Linked DNA regions of Homo sapiens: region 2 is linked to region 1. The links come from fine-mapping of genetic effects on gene expression. Tissue or cell type: whole blood. Region 1 holds a variant in brackets; the other region holds the start of a gene. Each region is shown on its reference strand, or each on the opposite one.

Region 1 (5,390 bases):
AGCTGATGAGCTAAGTAAGAAAGTTTCAATGATACCTTTCAGGAAAGGCAAGTCTTTGACAGTTTCGAGCAGAGGTGTGATGAACCAAAACTTATGTTTAGAAAGATCCAACTAACCGTGCAAGTGAAAGGAAGTGGAAGCAGAGAGTTCAGTCAGAAAACCATTTAAATCATCCAGTTATACAGTAAAAATAAATTAGGATGGGTGGTGTTAGTGGAACTGAAAAGAAAGAGACAATTATAACAGAAATTGTGAAATAATTAATGGAACCTATTGATGTGTAGGACTATGCCACTTATCATTCAAATGAGGAAGAGCTGGATACTTTTCTACATCAAAGTCAATCTTGACTTGCAAAGTAGTCAAAAGGGCAACAAAAAGTCGTTTATAAAGATTGAAGATCATGAAAGAGTCCACTATTCTCCATATGCTCTGTTTGTTTGTTTGTTTGTTTGTTTGTTTGTTTGTTTTGAGTCACCCAGGTTGGAGTGCAGTGGCACAATCAGGGCTCATTGAAGCTTCAACCTCAGGAGCTCAAGCCATCCTCCCACCTCAGCCTCCCAAACTGCTGGGATTACAGTAGGTGTGTGCCACCACACCTGGCCTCAATATGCTTCTAAATGGATAGAAGAGCCAATATTCTCAAGTAAGGTCATCCTTACTTGACAGGGTTGAAGCAATTTTCCTGAGCCTCAGGTTTAAAGGTGAGAAGGGATGGCTATCTCACATGTATGTCAGGCTATATCCCAAGGCCTCATTGGTATTAGAATAGTGGCTGATGGGGATCTATAACACCTCTATTCCTAACTTCTGATAGTAGTTCCAACCCTGCCAACAGTTACAGACAATATATGTGTAAGAAGAAAATATGTTTCTCCCAGCTATAAAAGGATGTGGCTTCATCAGACTCTGTCTTTTTGGATCCAAAAACCAAAAAGAATTCTGGTTCAAATGGTGTTTGGCATTAATACAAAGAAGAGAATGCTTCCGTCAGTGAAAGTTAAAAGCCACAAAAGTCTGCCTAATGAAGATATTGAATACGTCTTAGTTCACATATGCATGTTTATAATTTAAGATAATTGAATTTTTATAATTTTATATAATTTAAAGTTATAATTTTTATGTAATTTAAGATTATAAATTTTATTATTTTTATGTAATTTAAGCTTATACACAGACCAAGGCATTGACTATTAGATATGATTTCAGGCATTTTGAGAGAAAATGCCCTAGACTTTTCTAAGTTTGATCAGAGAAACATTCTGAATGGAGTCTGTTCCCACTGTTAGCATTAGATATGTAAAGGTATATGTGAATCTTAATTTTTCCAGCAGGATCAGTTGTGTAATTTATATTCATTCTCATCTCAGCTGCACTAATTTATAAATCCTAATCCTAATTAAGATCCATACATAGTAGCTGCTATATAAATAAACATATAACAATTGTATTATTTTCTATTGTTTACATTTTAAATTATTCATTAGGATTCAGCTAATCAAAATAATTTCATCTGTAGGCGAAGACAAATTTGGTTCACTTGCACAACCAACTAAAAAAAATCCTCTGAGTAGAATTTTAGCATTACAGACATGTTAAGATTTTTTTAGTTCATATCGAATCTGCCTAAAAGTATTTTCCCATCCAGCATGTTGAATTGCAGACCATCAGAGCTCTCGTTTACTATCTTGTAATGCAACAAACAAAACCTACTTTTGTTTGTTACCTAGCTCCTATTGGTGACCCTGAAAAGATCAAGTTACATCTGACTTTCTTATTTTTCACTGGTGGTGTCAATTCTTCTAGTGACAATTACATAGGGCTGCTACAGTTTCTGCTTTCACTCTTAAGGGGCTAACTAGTTACTAAAGTTGCCTATGAAACCCAAGAGTAACCCACAAAGCACAAGTAGAAATTGCATATGCTCATCTTTCTTTATTGTTCAAAACTAACAACCTCATGAAAGTTTCAGAAGATGTCATAGAGTCAGACCTCTAACATCATGGCAGTTTGAAGAGAATAGTGGTTCTATCAATAAAATGTCAGGGAAGATTTGCATGGTGAACCTCTGACTCTACTTCAAGGGATGCAATTAGATAAATATGCTAGATTTAGAGAATTGATCTAAAAATGTAGCTGCAGTCAGTTCCTAAGGACTTCAGAATTTTAATATTTATGAAATACATTAATTTTGTCAAAATAGGGAGAATCAGACAGAAAGAGCTGTCATGGGTCCTCACTTTGCCAAGCTAAATCATAAAGAAGGGTTACTAACTCTGCCACTGTTTTCCACGTGGAGACCAGATCTTCTTTTGACTACTGGGTAGCCTCTCCCTGTCTCCACAGAAGTTCACGTTTACTACATTTGACCTCTGCACCCAGCACTCCCAGACCTCTCTAAGTATGTGCCTATTGTAACATCAGATGGAATCTTTCTGCCTCCCTTTGCTCCCAATAGTTTTAAATTAGCTGAAGTTAACATATTTAATTGAGAGCCACATTATAACATTGTTCTAAACACTTTGTCTTACATTACATAAGACACTACTGGGATTTTAAATTTCCAAGTAACAGATCATCTTGAAAGAGGTTACAGTCAATTGTTTAATAAAGTGAATCACTGAAACTTTGAGCTCACTGAGGTCATTTTAAGCTATATTCTGTGATACTCCAATTAGTTCATTCAGTGCATATTTATTAAGTCCTACCATGTATAAGGCACTGTGAACCAGAACAGACATAGGTTTATGGAGTTCCAGGTCTCATGATGGAACCAATACTTCAGAACTTGTGTTCAATTATAAGCAGATATGAAGACCTTTTTTTAAAAAACAAAAAAAGTTTGCTGTATTTGATACAAGCTCTCTCATCCCAGCCTTCTACTCAATTATCTCTTTAGCCATGCATATTAGTATTTGACAAAGAAACTCATTTCTAACATCTTTATATGGTGGAATTTATGATGTCATGGTTAAAACAATGGTCTTTGGTGTCAGATATGTCAGAATGCAATGCTGCTTCTGCCACTTACTAGCTTTGTGATATTGGTAAAAATCCCTTAATCACCCTGAACCTCAGTTTTTTCATCTGTAAGGTAGAAATACTTATTTTTTTGGTGACGTCATGAGGATAAAATGAAACAATCTGCATGGAACCTTTAGCATATATTCTCACATGTAGTGGGCATTCAATAATTGTTTTCATTATAAAGAGGAGAGTTTGGGTGAGGAAAATGTGCATGATGCATTTGGTAACCAATATGACTTAG[A/C]AGTACCAGTAGATACAGTGGCAGAACTCTCTTCCACTGATAAGGGAAAAAAATGTAAATCTTGATGGAACCACAGGAAGCAAAATATCTAGATCTAGAGCAAGGAGAGAACCGTGGTGCTGGGGAGAAAAGAGCATCAGGAGTATCTTAGCTAGGGTTCCACTAAAAGCAGAGCCTGAAACAAGGAATAAGATGCATGTTAGTTTTCCCTAGAAATGAGAGGGCGGGAATAGCGGGAATAAGGAAGGGCTGGAGGAAAAGCCAAATAATGTTCCTAAAGGGTACCTAAGATTCCTGCTGTTGAAAATAGGACCTCTGAGAATGCCTAGTGCTTTTCAGAATTGCCTGTTCAAAAAATCGTTGGCGGGAATACTTATCACAAAGATTGCCCTGGCAGGTGTTAATTCCCCCTATATTTCCATGCTAGGCCTGAGGGAGGAATCATGAAGCAGGCTTCTGCAGCCTGGGAGAAGGCTCTGAGGCAGAAATTGGGATGATTCACAAAGTGTTCTAGAGGTGGGACCACCCAGGCCCAGCCTAGGTTTCCTAGGAACTGTCCTCTAAAGCTATAGTGAAATCAGTAGGGGGCATGGGGCTCCAAACTTCTCTTCTACAAATAGGCCTCCTGATAAGCCATGGAAAGCATCAGAAAGTGAAAAATGCTACTAGCAAAAGTGAATGCTGGCCCCAAAGATAAATCAGATATTTGGTTTTCTGGAAGCTTTGGCTTAGTTTCTAGATTATTATTAATCTAGCCACTAGATTATTGTAACCAAAGTTAAATGAAACAAAATAAAAGTGCAAGGACATAGAATCTTTCCCCTCCCAGAAGTTCTTACCAGGGTTAGAATCACAAGGATTTTAAACTTGGCTACCTATATAGTCAAAATACTGCCACAAAAAAGATGTGGCTTCACTAACATAATATATCATTGCATCATTCAATTCTCTACACCTATAATCACCGAACATTCTAGTCAAAGCCTGATCGATGTAAGCTACACTCTTCCATCTTCTCTAATGTCTCTATATTAGTCAGGCTGATGTCACAGTATACTGAAAATGACAAGTCACAACTTACCCTAGGAACATGATACGGGAAATTAAACTCAGCATTAAGGAGCTAAAAAGCTTTTGGTTTCTATTTGAAGGGGGCAAGCTGGTTGGCCTATCTGGTCTGACAGTAAAAGGTAAAATCATTTTAAAATAATAATTTCTCAGTATTCAGTCACATATTCAATGCATGGCTGTAATTTCTATCCAACCAAAGTACTACCTAAGGTTGCCAGATAAAATACAAACATTGCATGGGACATTCTTATCCTAAAAAAATTCATTAGTTATTAGACATTCAGATTTAACCGGGCAATCTTTATTTTTGTTTACTAAATCTGGCAACCCTAGTGCCCCTTCCAAACAAGAACAGAGAAAGAGCTGCTTATTAAAACAGACCCCAAGTGTTTTGGAATGATGTCCCGTACGTTTTAGGACTTTCCAGTAGCAGCAATATTAATAAATTGATATCTGAATTAACTGTAATGGTCTACATATTGTTTTCTTAGGCATGTTTTTAAAAACTTTTCAAAGCATTTCAATAATGTATTTTGTCACAACATGGCCATTTGTATCTTGAAAAAATATTGTGATGGTAAGAGGAAAATCCCATTTCAAATCCTTTCAAATGAACTTTCAAGAGACTCTCATTTACTTCAGTCAAGTAAGCATACCTTAAAATGTTTTCATATTATTCACTTAAATATTCTCTCATAAATAAATAAAGTTATTAATCAACTTGTAAGTCCCAGAACCATACCGCAAAATTCTTTGATAAAGAAACATCCAAAAACCACATGGAGAGTCACATCATTTTAGTTGCAAGATTCCTGTTCCAGCTCACCTTCCAAAACAATTTCAGTCAAGTAGAAATGCTCTGACAATCCTCACTCAGAATAGCAAATAATCCCTGCCTTTTCATTCATTCACTCATTACCTCTCTAAAACGAGAATGTGCAGTTACCAGAATTTTATACAATTAGTGCTCCAAGAGTGTTTTAAATGCAAACCTTTAAGAGGAAAGTAAAAACAAATCAAAGTTAATTGTGACTGGCTGAAACAAAATGCT
Region 2 (5,388 bases), not on the chromosome of region 1:
CCTTGAATCCCACTCTGGTGTCCTAACCCTTGGAATAACCTGTTTTTTCCCATCTTCAGATGAGCCATCCCTCACATGAGAGATCTGTATTTCCATATCCCTGGAACTTACCACTGAAGACTTCCAGGTACACAGGTTCACTCTCATTAACTTGTTGGTGCTGACATTTGTATTCTCCACTGTCTTCAAATTTGGCATTCACAATATTCAAACTTGAATTTGTCTCTTCTGAAAGGCTGCCATTGTGGAACCATTTGGTGGAACTGACTTCAAAGAAATTGTTCCCATTACATGTAAGAGTCACATTCTCTCCTTTAAATATTCTATTCCATGGAGGGTTCAAGGAGACCTTAGGTTTCTGAGGGACTTCAAGAAGATAAAAATATGAAAAGACATGTAGAGAGAAAAAAAGTCATTGAAAACTGTCTAGGCTTAAAAGTACAAACGAAGCAATATTCTGACAATCAGTGGTCAACCTGTCCTTATTCTGTTGGTGATAAGACCCTGTTTTGATTTCTAGGGGAAGGAGAAATTAGTATTGGTGCCCCAGGGAACGCCCAACACAGGGAGAAAGACAGGACACATATGCAGGAGATTTAAAAACAAAGAAACCAATTCACTATGTGATTTGAGCTGACTCACTCTACTTCTGTTAATTTCAATTCAGTATCTGTAAATGAGGACTGCAATCTCTTTTGAGGTAGAAACACTGTCTGCCATGTTCAACCATTGTTACATTAAATATTTATTATGTGAATGAATGAGTGAATTATGGATGGATAAATTTACTGGACTGGATGAAATATAAGGTTTCTCCAAGCTCTGAATATTTATGACTATTTAATTGTAAGTATATACAGAGTGAAAAACATATGTCAGTTCCAGAAAGTAGTGAGAGGCACTAAGAAAGTCAGTCTTGAATGGCTTCCTGGAACAAGGGGATGTAGTGCAAATTTGAACAGAGACCAAAGAAGTAGATACATGGTGATAACAAAAGGGTGATATAGTCAGAAGAGAACTGGACTTAGATCCAAGGAACTTACGTTGAAATCCAGTTCCTTAGCCATGTAACCACCAGAAAATCACTGAGTTTCAGCATCCTCAATTATAAAATGGCAATAATAATAATAATGTAATTATTGAGCGAGATCATGCCAAAGTGTCTAGGAGAGAGAATGAGACATGTATATGTGCAACAGACATGGTTATTGACTAAAACAGAGGAGAGAATGACTTGAGAGAATGCAATGAATCAGGGAAAAAAAGAAAGACAAGGCAAGGTGGAGAGGGAAAGTAGTCTGGCCAAGGAACAGATTCATGCTCATTAGAAAGCAGAAGTGATGGGACGAAGAAAATAGTGAGAGGAAAGCAATGCCCAGACATGTTGAAACACCAAGGGAACAAGAACAGAGGACTCACCTGCTAACACGCCATCTGGAGCTGCAAAAGTCCAGAGAGGATACATTAGTGTCCAGCAGTCTTCTTTATCTCCAGAGGACTAGAATCTGGGTGTGGGGATAAGATCTACATCCATGGAATTTTAAGGACCAACCGTCTTTTCAGGAATCAGAATCAGGGGAAGAAAGAGCTTCTTTCTCTCCTCTACCCTCATTTCCTTGGTAGGAAATTTGCACTCTGGAAGATGCCAGAGCAAATGCAAGGAACCAAGCTTTCAGTCTGGCTTCCTCCTTAGGTGTTGCTCAGCCCACTTGCCTCTGCTTTCTAGCTTGGCTCCACTACAGAGTCCCTGGGAAATGCCCAATAGTTTGCACATGTCCTAGAAAAAGTCACCACCCACAGTAAAGGTTCCTACCCCAGCTGCTCCCCAAATTCATTTGGGCCTCCCTGGGAGGGGTAATTGAATCTCTACTTACCGAAGAACAGTAAGGCTACACACAGTAGAGTAGGGGATTCCATGGCAGGAGCCATCTTCTTCATGGACTCCTGGTGCTTACTGTGCTGGAGAGATCTAAGGCTTCAAATATAGGCTTAAAACCAAAAAGCAGAAGGAAATGTTTTCTGTATCATATCTGGTTAACCCATCAGCTGTGCCTGGTTTTGCTTCTTTCTTTAGAGATAATATTCAGGATGGTGCCCAACTGGGCAATTTAATATTTACCCACTTACTCCACTCCCTATCCCACCTCCACATATACACCTGGAATCTGGTGAGAGAGAGGCATAGGTCTAGCACAATCACAAGCCTTTCTTAATCTGTCAATCTGTGTACAACTATTTAGTTTACAACTTAGAAAAGTGGGATGCAAGGGAGAGCAGAATAAAACAGCAGCAACTAATTACTGAATACCAAACATATGCCAGGTGTTATCCTAAATAAATCTGATATTTCATTTATTTTTCACAATAATCCTATAAAGTACATACTATCACTATCTACATTTTATAAACAGGAAAACTGAATCTTAGTGAGGTTAAGTAACTTGTTTTGGGGTGCCAACTATTAAATAACTAATTTGGGGTTCAAACACATAAAATCTAACCCCTAAGTCAAACTCTTAGTCATATGATGTACTGTTTATACATATTCAGGAGCATGGCTAGCAACTGCCAAATTCTTTTGGGATTCACCAGAGCTACCAACGCTTTTCTTGTTTAATTTCCTGCTGATCAGTTAGTGCATAAATCCACAAATTTTCATCTGATTCACTGATGATCCGCTGTCTGACCAGCGAAATTGGAAACATTTTCAGAGACTCCTCTTTCTCTACTGTGCCCTAATCTGGCTCAGAACACAGGAAGGCAGAAGTTAAACCATTACTTATGGGGATCTAGGCCATATAATTTATTTTATTTTACTTCCTAGCTTTTGTTTACTTTTAATATTATAATTTCCCAACATGATCTCCCTTTCTCCTTTAAATACACAGCAGGGGCTTTCTCCAGGATTCCTTTACTAATTCTTCTGTTTTTTTGCTCTAGGTCAAGGCTCAACCTTCTTCCAGGATCTGATATTAATGATAATACTGGAAATGAAAACTCTATTAATGTCTATAGTGGCTTGTCATTTGCAAAGATTGCTTTTAAATGAGTGTCCTATTTTATCTTTACCAAAACTCTGAAGAAGACAGGGACAGTATATTTAAACCCACTTCACATCTGAAGCACTTGAGGAACCATTCTATCATACCTTGCTCTTCCCCACAGACTGCTGAATTAAGTCTATTGAATGAAACCAGTCATTCCACATGAAGATCTAACCAAAACCTTTAGTTTTCTATGGAATTAGAAAATATAGGGCTAAAAAGGTTAATAAATAGGAATTTAAGTTTCAGATAAGAAAGATTAGGTACTGAGCCCAGGACATGCTATGTTTTAATGACAGACCTTAAAGGTAACAGCAAGTTATTTTGAAAAGTACAAGTTGTTTGTGTTTTAAGCTCTGAATTCAAATGTTCCTAATTTTTATGTGATTGAAGGTTACCTGTATAATAGGGACAATAATGGTATCCAGGTCATGGTTATATTATGAGATTTAATAAGATAAAAAAGAAGTAAAATGCATTGCACAGCATCTGACATGTGAAATATGGTCAATAAATACATTTTTTGTCTTCTTTATTATCATTATTTATTAAAGACTTATAGGAGAAATATGAATTTTGACTGGATTAAAGTTATTGTCAACCTACATAGTATGTTTAATTTGATAAACAACATCTTATGCTAGTTTAATATATCTACGCAATCTCAATCCTCTCCACAGTCACAAAGAAGAGAGCATAATCAGGAAAGAACAGAATGCAGAAAGTTGTTGGATAGGATTGGAGAAGAGAAGGAGGAGGAAATAGGGAAGATGTAGTTTTTAAGGTGCTGTCAGAGGGCAATATTTGAAGCCCTAAGCCCTGGAAGAGACGGGGAAAGATTCTACTTTACCAGTTTGTTGAGACTTTGCCAGGGGAAATTTGGGTTCCTTTTTCCTAGGACAGTGAACCTACAATCAAATTGTCCCTCAGAGAGAGTCATTTTACCATGACTCAAATAGTCTATTTAAAGGCTTCCTCTGAAGTCGTTATCTAAATAGCTCCTACTTAGATGGGAGATGGAGCAGGGCTCATCGAGAGGTACTATTCCTAGTTCGAAGAGTATAAGCTTTGGAGTTAGGGAGGCCACTTTCATTTCTAAAGCTTTCTGAAACTTTGGATTTATCATTCTAAAGCTTTTGCTTAAGTGCCCGGTATTGAAATAAAGGAAGTGCTTTGGTAGCAGTAACAGCAAAAATGTAGCAGTCCAATAAAAGCAGCTCATTAAAGCCTAAAAAGCAACCAAACTACCCATCTTCCCAGCCCACCCCCACCCCAAAAAAGCAAACCATTAACAGCATCGGAAAGAAAAAGCCATACCCTAATTTCCATAGCATATAACTACAGGTACCCAAAAGAACAGAACAAGAACACAGAAGGAACACATTAACACTAACATTAAACAAGAGCTCTATTCCTCCCTGGAAGAACGGGCTGATACACAGTTGAATGCCACAGGTTTTTTATCTTATATATAAAAAAAAAAGTCCTTCAAGTTTCATATCCATTATCTGGGTGGAGTGGGCTGCTACTAATTTCTCATACCCAGCCTGTCCACATCAGGAACACACGTTCACTGAAATCAATAGGGCGTGTCTAAATTTCAGTTCTTGCTTCTGATTCTGGGTACAGGAATGCTCAATACACAAAGAGTATCACTATGCCCAAACTTGGACCTGTTATTTGATGTTGGGAGCCTTAATCTATATTTCATTTTGTAGCAGTGGAAAAATGAAACAAATGGCTGTACATGAGCTACAGGGCCTGAGGACTGTGAGGTGCCCCTGCAACTGGATCCAGCGTGAGAGGCTTTGGGCAGGAACTTTTGTGTTTCGGGACGTGCCTGGCAGAGGGAGGATCAAGGCTCAGCCTATACAGTGTGTTAGCCTTTATGTCCTTCTCCAAAACTGGGAAGCAGAAAAACCAAATCAATCTGCTGGCTTCCTTCTCACTCTCAAAGTTCTCTAAAACAAGGTGAGGTCCATATAAAATTGAATATGAAACGATGAAAGTGCAAAATGCCTGTCTGCTCGTGATATTTATGTACCTAACAAATGTTGATCTCTCCCTGAGGATCAAATACAAGGCTAACTATGCAACATGTCCTATCTATTTTCCTCCTACTACCAACTCTATGTAGTTAAGAATAAGGAAATCAAAGCATGAGAGGTTAAGTAACTTGTCCCAGGGCACACAGTTGCTATGTAAAGGAATTAGAATTTGAACCTGGCAATATGTCTTAAGAGCACATGCTCATGACCAGATAGATAGATGATTGATTGACAGATAGATAGATAAAGATGTCTTTATTCATTGAGTCTACACTTTGTGATTAAGTGCACATGGA

Evidence for each region. PIP is the estimated chance that this variant, and not a neighbour inherited with it, causes the effect.
Region 2: it holds the start of FCER1A, and the variant in region 1 is fine-mapped to the expression of FCER1A in whole blood (TOPMed, PIP above 0.99).

What each region holds. Positions count from the first base shown.
Region 1 is chr2:144,569,700-144,575,089 of GRCh38, reverse strand. All of the region lies in intron 2 of LINC01412 (long intergenic non-protein coding RNA 1412), which reads right to left. Among named protein-coding and RNA genes, the nearest start is that of LINC02993, 48 kb to the right of the region's middle. The variant A/C (reference allele first, on the strand shown) is at 3,269.
Region 2 is chr1:159,298,906-159,304,293 of GRCh38, reverse strand. It overlaps FCER1A (Fc epsilon receptor Ia), which reads right to left and starts at 1,958. Exons shown (of 5, transcript NM_001387280.1): 1 at 1,875-1,958; 2 at 1,420-1,440; 3 at 112-366. The coding sequence starts at 1,929.